Linked DNA regions of Homo sapiens: region 1 is linked to region 2. A link means that fine-mapping ties the variant in region 2 to the expression of a gene that starts in the linked region. Tissue or cell type: subcutaneous fat. Region 2 holds a variant in brackets; the other region holds the start of a gene. All regions are shown on one strand. Distances are between the middles of the regions.

Region 1 (8,149 bases), 110 kb after region 2:
TTATTTCCAAAAATTAAACCCATCTCTAAGAGGTGAGTATTTGCTACCACATAAACTATGCAGAATAATTTGCTGTAGATTATAAAGTCAATTCCAAAAAAGCACTTTGGGGCTGGGCGTGGTGGCTCACGCCTGTAATCCCAGCACTTTGGGAGGCCGAGGCGAGCGGATCATGAGGTCAGGAAATCAAGACCATCCTGGCTAACATGGTGAAACCCCGTCTCTACTAAAAATACAAAAAATTAGCTGGGCTTGGTGGCACACGCCTGTAGTCCCAGCTACTCTGGAGGGTAAGGCAGGAGAATCGCTTGAACCTGGGAGGCGGAGGTTGCAGTGAGCCAAGATCACGCCACTGCACTCCAGCCTGGGCAACAGAGCAAGACTCCGTCACAAAAGAAAAAAAAAAAGCACTTTGGAGAATGTTTTGAGCAAAAGCAATCACTGAAGTTATATTCAGACCACTATCCGTTTGCATATTTATTATATTTAATTATAATCATTGCATAATTTTCTCTCAGTGAGACTTAGCCCCTATTGTACAGGAGCATTATTTTACTATTTCTGTCTTCTTATTGCCTTTATATATTATCTAGCACATAAGGGACATTTAATAAATGTTTGCCAAGGAGGTGGTACTCATTTGGATAAATACATGTTCTGAAACATAATGAATGACTCAAGGTTACAGCCTATGCTAAGGCTATTCATGCTTCTTCACTTCAAAGAATGTACTTTTCAAAGTCTCTCAGCTCTACAAAATAGGGCCTTATTGGAGTTTAAAATGTATACCTTTTAAAATCAAAGGAATACAATTTAAAAGCAAAATGATACATTAATACTAGAATATCATGGATGCAAGCAGAGAAATAAGTGCTCTTATACAATGCTTGTGATAGGGAAAACTGAGGTAAGTTTGTAAATACATACAAAAAATCCTTAAATATGCTTACTCTAGATGCAGAAATTTTGCTTCTAGTTCTTCACTCTGTGGAAAAGTAATGATCTTCAAATATGTATAGAGGGTTAAACTCAGTGCTGTTTACAATAGATAAAAATAATAGGAAATACTAATGCTAGGAAATAAGTGAATTTTCTAATTCAACAGAATAATATGCAGCCATAAAAACCATGGTATTCAAATACATTGGCATAGAAAGGGATTCAGCAGACATACTGTAAAAAGCAGAAAACAGAGCTGTAAACTACAGAATATCATTCAAAAACATTTTTATGCAGTAATAGTCACGTAATAAAATTAATATTTTAAAAGTGAATAGTTCAGTGACTATTTAGTACATTCATATTATTGGGCTACTGCCCCCTCTGTCTAGTTCCAAAACTAGATTTTCATCATTCCATAAGGATGTTTGCACCCATTACCTTCTCCTCCAGCCCTTGGTAAACACCAATCTGTGTTCCGCTCTATGAATCTACCTATTCTGATATTTTATACGCATGGAATCATACAATATATGACCTTTTGTCTCTGGCTTCTTTCATTTAATGCTTTGGAGGTTCGTCCACCTTGTAGGGGTCCTTAATTCCTTTTTATGGCTAAAAATATTTCTTAGCATATATATATCCCACGCTTTGCCTATCTGTTCATCAATAAATGGACATTTGGGTTGTTTCTATCCTTTGGTTACCAGGAATAGTGGTGGTATAGAAGGGTGTATTGCCGAATATCATTTTAATGATACAAGTATTAGCAGCCATTATTTTTGGGTGGACGGATTACGGGTGAATTATTTTATGTTATTCAGAACACTGGGCTTTGGAATCAATCAGAACAGATCCCATTTCCTCACGTGTAAAGTGAGGAAAACAAAACCTACGTAATTGAATGATCATGAAGAGTAAATAAATATGTATATGTAAAGCATTTAGAAATGCGTGGTTGGGGGGAGCACATGGTAAGGACTGAATTTGTAGTATTTTTAAAAAATCTTTAAAACATTTTGTTTTTCTTTTAATTAGTGTTAAAGTCTTTTTTTTTTTTTTTTTTTTTTTTTTGCTAGTGTACTTGCATGCTACACAATTAAGATGCATGGTCCCCTTCGCTGATGGTCACCTGGGCTAGTGCCAAAGGCTGCTGGATTGTTTGATCTGATGACATCCGTTTGACTAAGTATAGTTCTACACTGTAACTCTCCCTCCAAGTTTCAATTAAAATAATGTTCCAAGCAGCGTATTCTCCAGCCCCTCTGCCACAGCTCCTTTTCCATTCTAGTCTTTGTTTCAGCATCACTTTCCATGTTGCAGACCCAACTACCCAGGTTTTACATTTTAGGAACTGCATGACAGGGACAGAGGGACAGGTGAAGGGCACAGGCTTTCTCATACACAGCTAGCAAAATACATTACGATCAGGTTTTACCAAATACATAACATTTCTCCCACAATGTCCCTCTTTTTACTCCCCAGAAAATCTCATTGTAAACTCAAACTTTGCCAAATATGCTCTTCTTGAACCAACAGAAGGGTTACCATCGGGAGCCAGCCGGGCTGCAGGAGGCGCCCTCCTGCCACCCCTCCAGCCCCATCTCGGGTGTGGGAAGACCGAGTTCGCGCCCGCAGCCCCCGGGCCGCCCCAGCGCGGGAGTTTCGAGGGGAGCCGGGGGAGAGCTGCGGCGTCACATGGGGGGCCAGCCGGGGACAGGCGCCTGGGGCTGAGTCTCCCGGCGAAGCCACCGCGAAGGGGCCGCATCCCCCAGAGAACGACCCTGGGCGTTCGCGAAGGCCTCGCAGAGAGGGGGAGCCCGCCTGCGCGTCCGCGCCCTCACAGGTGTCCGGGTGGCGGCGCCCGGCCCCGCCTGCGGACCCGCGAGAGGCGGGCGCGGGCGCGCCTGTGCGCCGGGGCCGGGGGCCGGCGGGGGAGGTTCCCGCGAGGTGGTTCTCGGGCTCCTCCTCGGCGCCTCAGGTTTCCTCTCCCCGCCAGCAGGCTGCTGGCTGCGGCGCCGCCTCTCTCTACTCCCTCCTCCCACCGCCCCCCTTCCCCGCGGTTGGGCCCACTCTGCGGCCTCTGCCCGCCTCGCCCTCGCCCGGGCCTCCTCCCGCTTTCTCTCTCCGCTTCCCCTGGAGCCTCCGAGGAGTCCGCAGCCGCTGGGCGCCCGGGAAGATGGCGGCGGCGGCGGGAGACGGCGGCGGCGAGGGGGGCGCGGGCCTGGGCAGCGCGGCGGGGCTGGGGCCGGGGCCGGGGCTGCGCGGGCAGGGCCCCTCAGCCGAAGCGCACGAGGGCGCCCCGGACCCGATGCCCGCCGCGCTGCACCCTGAGGAGGTCGCCGCGCGACTGCAGCGGATGCAGCGGGAGCTGAGCAACCGCAGGAAAATCCTGGTGAAAAACCTGCCCCAGGACAGCAACTGCCAGGTACTGGGACGGTGATAGGGGCGACGCGTCCCGAGGGGCGGCGGGGCGGCGCTCCGTGTCCAGGCTGGGATCGGGGGCGCCTCAGAGCGGTCCTGGGGAGTGGGTCGGCGCCGAGTGGTGAGAGCGGCCCCTCGGTTTGACTGAGTTCTTGGGGTTTCTAGCCTGCAGACGCCCTGCCAGGGAGGGGGGCAGATTGGGAAACTGAGGCTCTGAGTGGCGAAGCGGCTTCTCCAAGGTCACGGGAATCAGGGGCTGCTGCCTCCAAGTTCGGCCCGGTCTTTCCTTCCCCTACGGCCGTAGAGGAGTAGGAGGTGAAGGAGAGTGGAGGTGAGTTGTGGAGCACACATTTTGCGGGGGGGAGCGGGGGTAGAGGGGGCCGAAGCTTCGGGAGCACCTTGGCAGGGGCGAGGGCTCCAACGTATAGTCCCCGGTGCTCGGGAGTGCCATAGGGGGCAGGGGCACGAGAGAGCTGGGAGTGAGTTTCGCTGTTGTTGCAGAAGCACTTGCCCAAGTTTCTATGAAACAACTCTGTCTTCTCAGTTTGCTAAGGCCCCAGAATAGAGTTATTGCTGCGCTCCTTGGAGCCTTGCAGCCGCCTCCTGCTACGCCAAGTACAGTACTGGAGGGTTTGTTCTCAGTGACTTGGATGAGGTTTAAAGATAGCTACTCTGTGTATTTAATCCAGATTAACTGTTGCTTTTAAGATTAGAAACTCTGCATCTATTTAACTTTTTTTTTCCCCTGATTTCAAAAGCTGCATGCTCATTGTAGGAGAGCTAGGAAAGACAGAGAAGCACAAAGGGGACACAGAAATTACCCATATTTCTGATACCTGAAGATAACCATTGTTATCCTGGGATGTTGTTCTTTTCTCTTTTCCTATGCATATATATTTTTGTTTTATCAAAAGCTTGAAATCATTTCTTTGATTCTTCAGGATTTCTTAGCTGTCTGGATGTTCACACATGTTTCACATATAACCTGAATTTATATACTGCTCCGAGTGTGGTGGGCTGTCCTGGTAGTTGCGGATTTGTAGTTCCTCCTGTAACCGGATGCATGAAATTGCAAGAGGGCTGGCTATTGACAATTGCATGGCAGTTCTTCCATGTGACTTATAAAATAATGAGACCAATGCCCCATTACTATGTAATGAGACCTTACATAGCCATTCACAATAAATATGAACATATAACCTTATAACCCGTAGGCATGGGGGGCTATTTTGTTTCAAAATGCAGTGTCTGTCAGTATTGTTTATCTCATCTGTCTTTCAACTCTTTCCATTCCGCCATGGTCCACTTCCCATCTGTCAGGTAATGTTTTGTGATACTACCTGTTAAGGACACCTGCAATGGACTGATTTCTTGGAAGCAGCCTCCCCTGCCCATACAAATAGAGGACTGTAAGGGAGCTCAGGAAGGAGGAGGCTTGGAAGAAGCAGATGGCATTTTTTAAAAAAACAAATTTAAAAAATAGCAGCTCTTTGTATAGACAGTCTAGGAGGAGAGAAATAGAGAAGTATCTCAATGTCTTTGTAGAATGTCAGCTGTTTTTGTTATCACAATTCCTTGCATTAATTCTAAATATATTTAGACCCCAAATTGAAGACGTTCTGTCTATTCTTGCTTTGCTGTTGGTATCTTTCTCATTTCCCTTCGCAATAGACATGAAAAATATATCAAAGGGTCTAATAAAAGGAGCAGTTTTAATTAGTGATAGAAGCTTTCTCAGAATTACACTGGGATTTGTATTTTTGAGATTTCATCTACTTAAACTAATATTTTCATATGTTCTGCATGAATTTTTTTGTATTTTTTGTTTTAACAATTTCCCTTAATTATAATGTCTGCTTTTTCTTAGTGACTATATTTTACTGTCAACTTACTGATGAAAGTTTCACTTTATTTTATTTTGTGTCTTTTTGCTAGTAAGGCCTACATAAAATCACCTGTGCTAAAACTACATATTTACCCTTATGAAATGGTTAATATGGCTTTTGTTCAATTATTAAGTAATCAGATATTTTTGAAATACTAAGTTCTTGTTCTTTTCCAGAAGAGACTGTGTTTATTCATTCATTTCTTTCTTTCTTTTTTTTTTTTTCTGAGACAGAGTCTCGCTCTGTCATCCAGGCTGGAGTGCAGTGGCGCGACCTCAGCTCACTGCAACCTCTGCCTCCCAGGTCCAAGTGATTCTCCCTGCCTCAGCCTCCCAAGTAGCTGGGATTACATAAGCCTGCCACCATGCCTGGCTAATTTTTGTATTTTTTAGTAGAGATGTGGTTTTGCCATGTTGACCAGGCCGGTCTTGAACTCCTGACCTCAGGTGATCCCACACGCCTCGGCCTCCCAAAGTGCTGAGATTACAGGTGTGAGCCACTGTGCCTGGCCTCATTTCTTTATTTTAGAATATCACTTTAAGGATCAAAGACATTCATAACTCTAGTTCTCAAACTGTGTATTTATGTCTCTAGAAAATACTGATCAATAACTTACTAGTAGAAACCCAATAATTTTTTCTTAACATTTGAAATATATGAGTGTTTTCTTTATTAAATGTAGTTTTCATAAATCTCAAATTTTGTTTTATTTTTGGTATAGCAGATTTATAATAGCATCCCACAACTTTATAGTTCCTATAATTAAAAGGCATACTGAAAGTATTTTTAACTGGAAGCTTTTAGAGGTATGTTTATCAAATACCTTATAGAAGTACCGGCTCTAAAAAAAAGTGAACACCTTTATATTAAGTTCTCAAAAGCTTTCTCACTGAATAATTACTGTGCATTCAGTCAAGCCCTGTCTGGTCTGCCTAAGCTTTCTGGAATCTTCCTGGCCCTCTTTGTTTTCACAGCCTCAGCTCTGGTTCAAGTCCTTTTCGTCTCTTGTTCACTGTTAACAACTTTTCGGTTTGTCACCTACCTTCATTACTGTCCTGTTTCTTACATTTTAGCTCCTTCTGCATGCTACTTCCCTTGAGGGATACTCCTGAAGCACAAATCTGATCATGTCACTCTCCTGCTCATAAAAAACCAGCCTTTGGCTGCACGTCCTCTCAAACTTTTCCTCAAATTGTCCTTAACAGTAAAGAACAGTGAATCTGAATTAGACTGTTGCAAGACTGAAATTGCTTTGAAGTTTTGTGTTCTGTCTGAGAATTTTATATTAATTTTATATTCTATTAGTAACATTGGATTTAACACAAAAATAGCATTTAACTCCCAATTTTTTTTCATAAACTTGACACTTATGGAAAATGTACTATATTTGACTTTTGATTCTCTGTATTTCTGTATTACCATGGAGTACACAGATATGAGTTTGAAAAGCATGAAATGATAGGACAGCAGTCTAAGATTCTTAGGCTTTTTGTGTGTTGGCCCCTGCCTACGTTTCCAGTCTCATTCCTTTTTAGTTTTTATTTATTGTTTTGAGACAGGGACTTGCTCTGTCACCTGGACTGGAGTGCGGTGGAACGATCACTGCTCACTGCAGCCTTGACCTTCCAGGCTGAAGCGATTCTCTCACCCTCTAAAGTAGCTGGGACTACAGGCATAAGCCACCATGCCAGGCTAATTTTTTTTTTTTTAATTTTTTGTAGAGACATCGTATCTCTATGTTGCCTAGGCTGGTCTTGACCTCCTGGACTCAAGCAATCCTCCTGCATTTGCCTCCCAAAGTGCTGGGACCACAGTGTGAGCCACTGCACCCAGCCATCAGTCTCATTTCTGATTAGTCCCGCATTGGATTCTGTTCATTTCTGATTAGTCTTGCATTGGATTTTTTGTTTGTTTGTTTGTTTTTTGAGACGGATTCTCACTCTGTCGCCCAGGCTGCAGTGCAGTGGTGTGACCTCGGCTCACTGCAACCTCCACCTCCTGGGTTCAAGCGATTCTTCTGCCTCAGCCTCCCGAGTAGCTGGGATTACAGGCATGTGCCACCACGCTCGGCTAATTTTTGTGTTTTTAGTAGAGACAGGGTTTCACCATGTTGGCCAGGCTGCTCTCGAATGCCTGACCTCAGGTGATCTGCCCGCCTCGGCCTCCCAAAGTGCTGGGATTACAGGCGTGAGCCACCGTGCCCGGCCAGTCCTGCATTGGATTCTATTCCACATTTATCAAACTACCTAGATCCCCAAGTACCTCATGCCACTGTGAATTGAATATTTATAGTTATATCTTTGTTTTGGAATGTATTTATAGTGAGTACTTTATAGTGAATAATATTTATAATTATTTTTAATGAATAATTTATAGTCAATAGTAATGTTGCAAATGCTGGTTCCTATTCATAGCCATTGTATATGTGTGTGTCTGGTCTTTTGCAACTGAATTTAGAATTTTGATTGGTTGAGGTAATGTTTTAATATTTTTTCTAATATATGTGTTATTGTATTTCTATAAATTGTATTACGGTTAACCTGGTTCTGTTTCAATATTGTTGTCATTGGGGTTTCAAAATGGAGAAAACAGGGGCATTTGCTTCTTAGATTATTTGTGTTCACTTAGGTTTTTTTTCTTACAGGTCTTATGTGTGTGCATGTGTTTTGTTTTTGTCATCTTGTTTACCCTAAAATCTTGAAGAGAGTCTCTTGTGAAATTAGAAGACAATGTGAAGTGCTTAGGGCCAACATTCAGGATCAGTAATAGAGGAAACAAAACATTCTATTGTCACTTTGGATATTATAAACTTACATTTCAAAGTACTCTAATATGATAGTTAATTTGAGAAGCTTGATGGTTTATTTACAGAGACCCATTTGAAACCATAATATTACCAA
Region 2 (8,149 bases):
ATGGTAAGGTTTCTAATTAGCCATGACTTTCACACTGGAGGTTACGCTGAGGAGGAGAGGGGTGGGAGATTTGGATGCTGATGGATGGCTGAACTTTATTGCAAGATTGTTGGGAAGTCAGGAAGAAGGGAAAGCCGCTAGTGGCTGACTAATCTCTGGGACACCTCAGAGAGAGGTGTGGGTACAGCTAATGATAATCTATTGCCTGTGGACATTTTCTGCTTCATCATTTTGACTTTGCCAACTCCAGAGGTTTTGCTCACTAACCTAGTGGCTTAAAACACACACACCTCACTCTCTTACCCTCACCCCTCACCTCCAGGTTGAAAAACAGGATAGTTCATTCTTGCTATGACTTTTCTCTGCATAAAATAGTTTGTGTGTGTGTTTAATGTTATGTATGAACATAATACTACCACTTCATGTTGGAACAAAAACCAAACTCTAGGGGTTTCCCCACTTTACCAATCCTTATGGATCCTTTTCAAATTTGATAGATGGATGGCTCCAGGGATTTATTTTGAAACTCTCAGAATCTGTTCTGTAGGCCTTCTTACTCCTTGGCCTCTTCTGTTACATAAATAAATAAATCTTTAGACGGTAGGATAACAAGTTTGGTGGTTTTTTTTTTTTTTCTTTCCTGCAGATTTCTGTGTTAACTGTGGCAGATACCGTCCGGACTTGCTCACTAGACCAGTGCTATAAGACCTTCTTGTCTCCAGCCACCAGTGAGACAAAAAGGAAAATGTCCACCTTTGTTAGCAGCGTGAAGTCTTCAGACAGTCCTACCCAGCACGCAGTGGGATTCCAAAAGGCATTTCAGCTGATTCGAAGTACAAACAATAACACAAAGTTCCAAGCAAGTGAGTGCGTTCTCTCAGAGGACTTAGAGGCATAGTAGATAAAGATGGCAATAGGAATATATTGTAAATTGATCACACAATGATGTTTAGAGAGATTTTATTTATTTATTTATGTATGTATTTATTTATTTATTTATTTACCTTGAGACAGAGTCTTGCTCTGTCCAAGCTGGAATGCAGTGGTGTGATCATGGCTCACTCCAGCCTTGACTTCCTGGGCTCCAGCAATCTTTCTACTTCAGCCTCCCAAGTAGTTGGGACCACAGGCTTATGCCACCACGCCCAGCTAATTTTTATATTTTTGGTAAAGAAAGGGTTTCACTGGCTGAGACCTGTCTGATCTCAAACTCTTGAACTCAAGCAATCCACCTGCCTTTGCCTCCCGAAGTACTGGAATTACAAGCATGAGTCACCGCGACCAGCGTAGAGGGATTAAAAAAAAATTGATTGGGGGCGAGGTGCGGTGGCTCACGCCTATAATCCCAGCACTTTGGGAGGTCAAGGCAGGCGGATCACAAGGTCGGGAGTTCGAGACCAGCCTGGCCAATATGGTGAAACCCCATCTCTACTAAAAATACAAAAAAAATTAGGCAGGCATGGTGGTGGTTGCCTGTAGTCCCAGCTCCTCGGGAGGCTGAGGCAGGAGAATCACTTGAACCCAGGAGGCAGAGGTTGCAGTAAGCCAAGATCATGCCACTGCACTCCAGCCTGGGTGACAGAGCAAGACTCTGTCTCAAAAAAAAAAAAAAAAAAAAAAGATTTGGGATAAAATTGTCATATGTTGTCTTCGTCATCATCTAATTATAGAGTGTTAACTGCGTTTTTCTCATCTTTTCCAATCAAAGATGGTCAGTCTGTACAATTTCTTGACTCTTAGAGCCTCCCCTTCCTGCCCCTTTATTTAGATCATGTCTGCACTTATGTCCCAAGGGAATCTCCACATCCTTTCTAATGCTGATTGTCAGCTTTGCTTCCTCTTTGACTTGGAGTGGAAGTCTGCTTGTGCACATGTGGACGTGAAGTGGGCAGCAGGAATTCTTGCCTTGATCCTTCCTTCTTCTAACCAGCTGTCATTTAGATGAGCATGGCCCTTCAGATGTACAAAGGCACTCTAATTTAATTTTTTTTTTTTTTTTTTTTGGAGACAGAGTCTCACTTTGTCACCCAGCCTGGAGTGTGATCGCGCAATCCCGGCTCACTGCAACCTCCACCTCCCGGGTTCAAGCGATTCTCCTGCCTCAGCCTCCTGAGTAGCTGGGATTACAGGCATGTGCCACCATGCCTGGCTAATTTTTGTATTTTAAGTAGAGATGGGGTTTCACCATGTTGGTCAGGCTGATCTTGAACTCCTGACCTTGTAATCCCCCACCTCGGCCTCCCAAAGTGCTGGAATTAGAGGTGTGAGCCACCACGCCTGGCCTCTAATTTAATTTTTATGTATTAAAGAAAATCTGGAATTAGGATGCATCCTAAAGTAAGGGAAAAGATATTTGAAATGGGGCTCATGCTTTGAAACTACTTGAAGGAATCTATTTCATTTTCCCTTTTATTTTCAAAAATCTGTTTATAGGCTGGGCGCGGTGGCTCATGCCTGTAATCCCAGCCCTTTGGGAGGCTGAGGTGGGTGGATCACAAGGTCATGAGATCAAGACCAGCCTGACCAACATGGTGAAACCTCATCTCCACTAAAAATACAAAAATATAGCTGGACATGGTGGCACACGCCTGTAATCCCAGCTACTCAGGAGGCTGAGGCAGGAGAATTGCTTGAACCCGGGAAGTGGAGGTTGCAGTGAGCCAAGATTGCGCCACTGTACTCCAGCCTGGTGACGGAGCGAGACTCAGTCTCAAAAAAAAAAAAAAATCTGTTTATAGTTTTTTTCTTTGTTTGAAAATATTAATGTATCCTATTGAGATAAATTTAAAGAATACATTTCCAAGCCCTTCATTGTGTCTGTGTTTAAACTAAGCACTGATTAATGCAAAGCATAGTGCCTCGCACATAATGGATCCTCAAAAGAAGGAAGCTACTGTAATTATAACTAATGATGGTACATGGTGTGTTAGTTTTATGTCTCAGCATAACAAATTACCACAAACTTAGCAGTTTAGCACAATATACATTTGTTATCTCACAGTTTTTGTGGGTCAGGAGTCCAAGTACAGCTTAGCTGAGTCCTCTGTTTAGGGTCTCACAGGCTACTGTCAGAGTGTCAGTGGGACTACCGTTCATTCAGAGTCCTAAGGTTCATGCTAAGGTTTGTTCATGCTAAGGTTCATTCATGCTAAGGTTCAACAAACATGAGCTCACACGTTTGTTGGCAGAGTTCATTTCCTTGCAACTGTAAAACTCATTTCATTTACTTCTTCAAGGCCAATAGAAGAGCATCTCTTCAAATCCCTGGCTTCAGAGAAGGTTTGGGCCCTCTTTTAACAAGCTCATCTGATTAGATCAGCCCCACTTTCCCTTTTGATTTATTTAATCAGATTACTCTCGCTTGTGATTAACTCAATGTAAGTTTATCAGGGACCTCGGCAAACATCCATCCATCTTTGCAAGCACCATCACAGGAGTAATGGCTCATTACTTGCCATATTCTTCTTCTTAGAAGCAAGTTACAGGTTATGTCCCGTATACAGGACATCCTGTATATTCAGCAGTATACAGGATGTTGCTCATTTAGATCATCTTAGAATTTGGCCTACCAGCTTTGGCAAGCATCAGCTATCCACAAGCCAATATTATGGGGTGGCTGAGCGTAAAGTTGCCCTTGGTTCAGTAAGGTCAGTTAACAAGGCTGAATTCAAGTACTCAAGGCAGATTGGCCTGTTTGTCAATGC[C/A]ACCCACCTGTCAGCATTCCTCACTAGAAGTGTTCTTTCTACCAAATTCTTCTGTCATCAGACCATCTTTAAAGTCTAGTTTTGATTATTATACTTTTCAAATAATGGAGAGAAATGTTAGACTAGCAGTTGCAAACTCAGATGTCCACAGTGGCCAGGCAGCGCATTTGAGTCAAGTGAGCTGGGGGAAGGTAATGAGGATGAGTTGGAGAACATGGTCACATGGACACATGCACCATCCAGAGGGTAGCTGCTCCTCTGTTCAGTCCATTGAGCAGGAATGTCTGCCCAGTGCTGCCAGATCTTCTGTTTCAAGAGATGCCAGAAATCTGGATTTTCATGTGAAATCCCTTGATTTTCAAATGTTGACATTTGTTCCAGCTTTAAAACTGTGAATAGAGACCTCATTAAATCTCTTCTCACAGACATTCCTGCACTGCACATGAGCAGGAGGCTGGTTTGATGAGAGGCATTTCTCCTCTGGATTTTTCTGTGTTGTTTTTCTTAATGTTGGCAAACAAAAACATGGCAAGAAGATTGACCATTAAAGACTTGGACAAATTTTGAAGGCACAGTTTTCTAAATACTCAGAGGAGCCCTTTTTAGCCCAAGTAAGATGTTTCTAAGGCTTAGCTCACTGGCCTCTAGTTTATAGCTTTTACTGACAGTTTAGAGAAAAAATAACCTAGATTAGTTTGTATAAAGAAAAGACTTCAGGAATGAGCGTTGTCCAGTTTATTAAGGAGCAGTCCCAGGGTACTCTCAGGCAATATTGCCCAGGAGTTATGCAGGTTATAGATTTCAACTAGTGTTCTACTCTGAAATTTTTCTAACCTTGTGGATTTGTCTATATTGTTTTATTTTCTCCAGACCTGGATTCCTCACCTGTAAATGGAGGGGTGATAATATCCAGGATTCCATCATAAATATCCAATGCATATTTCCTGTGATTATTATGATATTCAGTTTCCTATAAGACTTCTAGCTCCAGCTAAACTAGATCAGATGCCCTAGATGTCCTAAGTTGACCTCAGGCCCAAAGATGGCCAAGGCCTAGGCAACAGTGTAGCAAGGGGTCTGTATACACTTCCTAGAAGTTTATTCTAGTGTAAACTCTATACATCACTATTTCTCTTCACTCTACAGACAATTATTTAATGTCTACTGTATATCTGGTGCTGTTTTAGGTGCCACATGTGAGGTTATTCAAATAATAAGACCTACTCTTGACGATTGTTGTAAGGGTTAGTCTGTACATGAAAGTAAAGTGTATGCCCACATTGGTAGCCATATAAAAATAAGCTACATGTCATAAATCATTGTTGGTTGACACTAATTTGCCTTATATCAACCAGAAGGTCTAAAACTTTTGTCCAATTCTGACCCTTTTTTCAGTCTTATGGTAGATCTTTAACTGACAGCATTAACATCCTGGAGTTGTTTCTTCTGAATTTGTTTTGGAGCTGATTAGTTGAGGATCATAATGAACCTCAATTAAAGATGGTTAAGAGTGGAGATCTAATGGTATGGGCAAAGCCTAAATATGAGTCGCTCTTCCCCTTTTGATGTTGACCCCAAGACATGCCTGGTGGCTTATAGAGAGACTCAGCAAATGGAGAGCTATTACATTTTCTTCCAGTTACATGCTGCATCTCTGCTCTACCCCAAGTCCCTGTAATTGCTTGCCCCTAAAATTGCTCTAAGTGGGTGACTAAAAAGGGAATATCCCAATGCATTAAAAAAACAAATCAAACCAAATTTGACAGATCTGATAAGAATGGAAAAATAACTCAATTTTTCTTGAGGATAAGGTGGGAATGGAGTCAGGGGTTGGACAGAGCCAGCGAGGATTCTTACAGAGTGTATGTCTTATTGTTGGAATGGAAAGAAAATGTGCTTGGCTACCAAAGCAGCTCAAGGGCTGCTAGCTTTCTGGCCTTCCAGACATGGACCTTTGCCCTAGAAACAGCTCTAAATGACAGTGTATTTTATGCAGAATCATAAGGCTAAGTGAGACAACTTAGAGACTAGGGTTCTCTTTTAGGTCACCCTAGATGTGTCCAGGAATTTATCACACATATACTTTTGCCATGAGGAGATGGTTTGTGTCATACCATAGATCCTCCTCATGCTGTATCTATGTATATATGTTCCCTCCAACTAGGGACTCAAGCAATTTTTGTTTTTGTATTTTTCAGTCTGAAGTTTAAATGAACTGTTTAGGGTCCTTATAAAATAATTTACTGAACTGTATATACAACTGAAAAAATATTGACATCTGGTTTGTTGACATCTAATTTAAGACAAGAATATTCCTAAAGTGTGGATTTTCTTTTTGCATCAGCATTCACTTCCTAATCTCTGATAACTAAATAGTGAAATTTAAATGTGCAGTTAATGTTCACTAGAGAATGTTCAGGTATCAAAATTGGTATTAAGTATTAGGAGTAAATAAGAGGAATTTTGAATGCATTTATTTCTTAGAGTCAAATTTTGTTAAACTCAGTTCAGTTATCTATGACATTCATATATTATAAGTTAACTGTTAAATTCTGCCTAATAAAGAATACTTAAATCTAAAATGGAAATGTATAATTTGAAGGAAATTCAAGTTTTGTGTCTTCACCATTAGGATAATTTTTTAAAGGGTAGCTATATTCATTAACTATTGCTGTGTAACAAATTATTCCAACACTCTGTGGCTTAATACATCTTTATTGTCTCATAGTTTCTGTACTTCAGGAATCTGGACACAGCATAGCTGGGTGCCTCTGGCCCAACGAGTTTCTTGAGACGGCAGTCAGCCTATTGCCCAGAGCTGCTGTCTTCTCAAAGTTCTACTGGGGAAATAGCTGCTTCCAAGCTCACTCACACTTTTGCTGGCAGGATCTTCAGTTCCAGGGGCCTCTGTTCCTTGCCTCTCCATAGGACTGCTTACAGCCTGCCAGCTGGCTTTCTTCAGAGTGAGAAAGCCCCCCTTGCAGAAGCCACAGTCTTTTTGTAACCTAGTCTTTGTCTTGATGTCCCATCACCTCTGCCGCATTCTAGTCATTATAAGTGACTCACTAAATCCAGCCACACTCAAGGGAGGCAGCTACCCCAGGAGGTGAATGAATGTCAAGACATGGAATCACTAAGGGACCAAGTTTGAGGTTGCCTGCCGCAGTCACTTTAGAGCAACCTCAACTAAAACACAATAACAGAAACCTGAAGAAGTAAGTGTATAACATATTATATAAATATTTCTCAGTAAAAAGATAAATATGTAGGATGTCCTAAAAATTTTTATTGAGGCCAGGCGTGGTGGCTCACGCCTGTAATCCCAGCATTTTGGGAGGCCAAGGCGGGCAGATCATTTGAGGTCAGGAGTTCAAGACCAGCCTGGCCAACATGGTGAAACCCCATCTCTACTAAAAATACAAAAAATTAGCCAGGCATAATGGCACGTGCCTGTAGTCCCACTACAGTAATCTGAGGCATGAGAATCGCTTGAACCCTGGAGGAGGAGATTGCAGTAAGCTGAGATCATACTACTGCACTCCAGCCTGGGTAACAGAGCAAGACTCAGTCTTAAAATATATATATATACAGACACACACACACACACACACACACACACACACACACACACTCTCAACATTATATATATATATATATATATATATGTTAAATCAAAGAATTACAGATTAGGAAGAAGATGTAAAAGTCCAGCTCTCTGACTTCCCTCTTTTTATTGTGGTCATTTAGCCTCTGCTTATTTATCTCTAATTGTAGGAAATTAATCACCTTTGTTTTTTTTTAGTCAACCCACTTGACAGAAGTTCTACGGGACCAAAATTAACTCTCAGTTATTCTACCTCGCAGCCCTATTTGGAAAATAATTTCACTTCTAACTCAGGGGTGCTCCTTCAATCCAATGGCATGGTTTTTGTTTTCATTTTGTGTGTGTGTTGTAGTTTCTTTTTTTTCTCTTTTACCTTCTTTTTTTATCACCTTTTTGCTGATAGTCTTTACGTAAAATAACCAATTATTCTTCACAGCAACACTACTAAGTCAGTCCTGTCATTACTCCCATTTTATAGACAAAGAAAATTAGTTGTAGAGAGGTTGAGAAATTTGCCTCAATTACCCAGACACAGCTTGTAAGTAGCAGAGCTGGGCTTTGAACACAGTTACCTGGCTTCTAAGTCCATGTTTCACTGCTCTACTGATGAGATTTTTAAATGAAAATTACCTAAAGATATTTAGTCTAGGAGCAAATAACATTATGTGCCTGAAGAGCCCGAAAGAGTCATCATTTTAAAGCCTGGTCCTCAAGAAACGAGCATTCATGGTGATGTTCCTGCATCACAGAGGAAAGGATAAGTCGCGTTCTGCATCATCTGTTTCAGAAGGCAGGAGAGATTTCCATTTGGATTGGCTTAAATTACTATAACCATTGGTGC

Direction of the effects. Positions count from the first base shown, and alleles are read on the strand shown. Sizes are in standard deviations (SD) of each study's normalised expression.
In carriers of allele A in region 2, the expression in subcutaneous fat of the gene that starts at base 3,021 in region 1 tends to be higher than with C alone (large effect, 2.0 SD a copy in TwinsUK).

What was found. PIP is the estimated chance that this variant, and not a neighbour inherited with it, causes the effect.
Region 1: it holds the start of RAVER2, and the variant in region 2 is fine-mapped to the expression of RAVER2 in subcutaneous fat (TwinsUK, PIP 0.95).

Annotation. Positions count from the first base shown.
Region 1 is chr1:64,742,055-64,750,203 of GRCh38, forward strand. It overlaps RAVER2 (ribonucleoprotein, PTB binding 2), which reads left to right and starts at 3,021. Exons shown (of 12, transcript NM_001366165.2): 1 at 3,021-3,367. The coding sequence starts at 3,119. RefSeq lists silencers at 2,675-2,774, 2,795-2,994.
Region 2 is chr1:64,633,398-64,641,546 of GRCh38, forward strand. It overlaps CACHD1 (cache domain containing 1), which reads left to right. Exons shown (of 27, transcript NM_020925.4): 7 at 647-863. Among named protein-coding and RNA genes, the nearest start is that of MIR4794, 58 kb to the left of the region's middle. The variant C/A (reference allele first, on the strand shown) is at 3,705.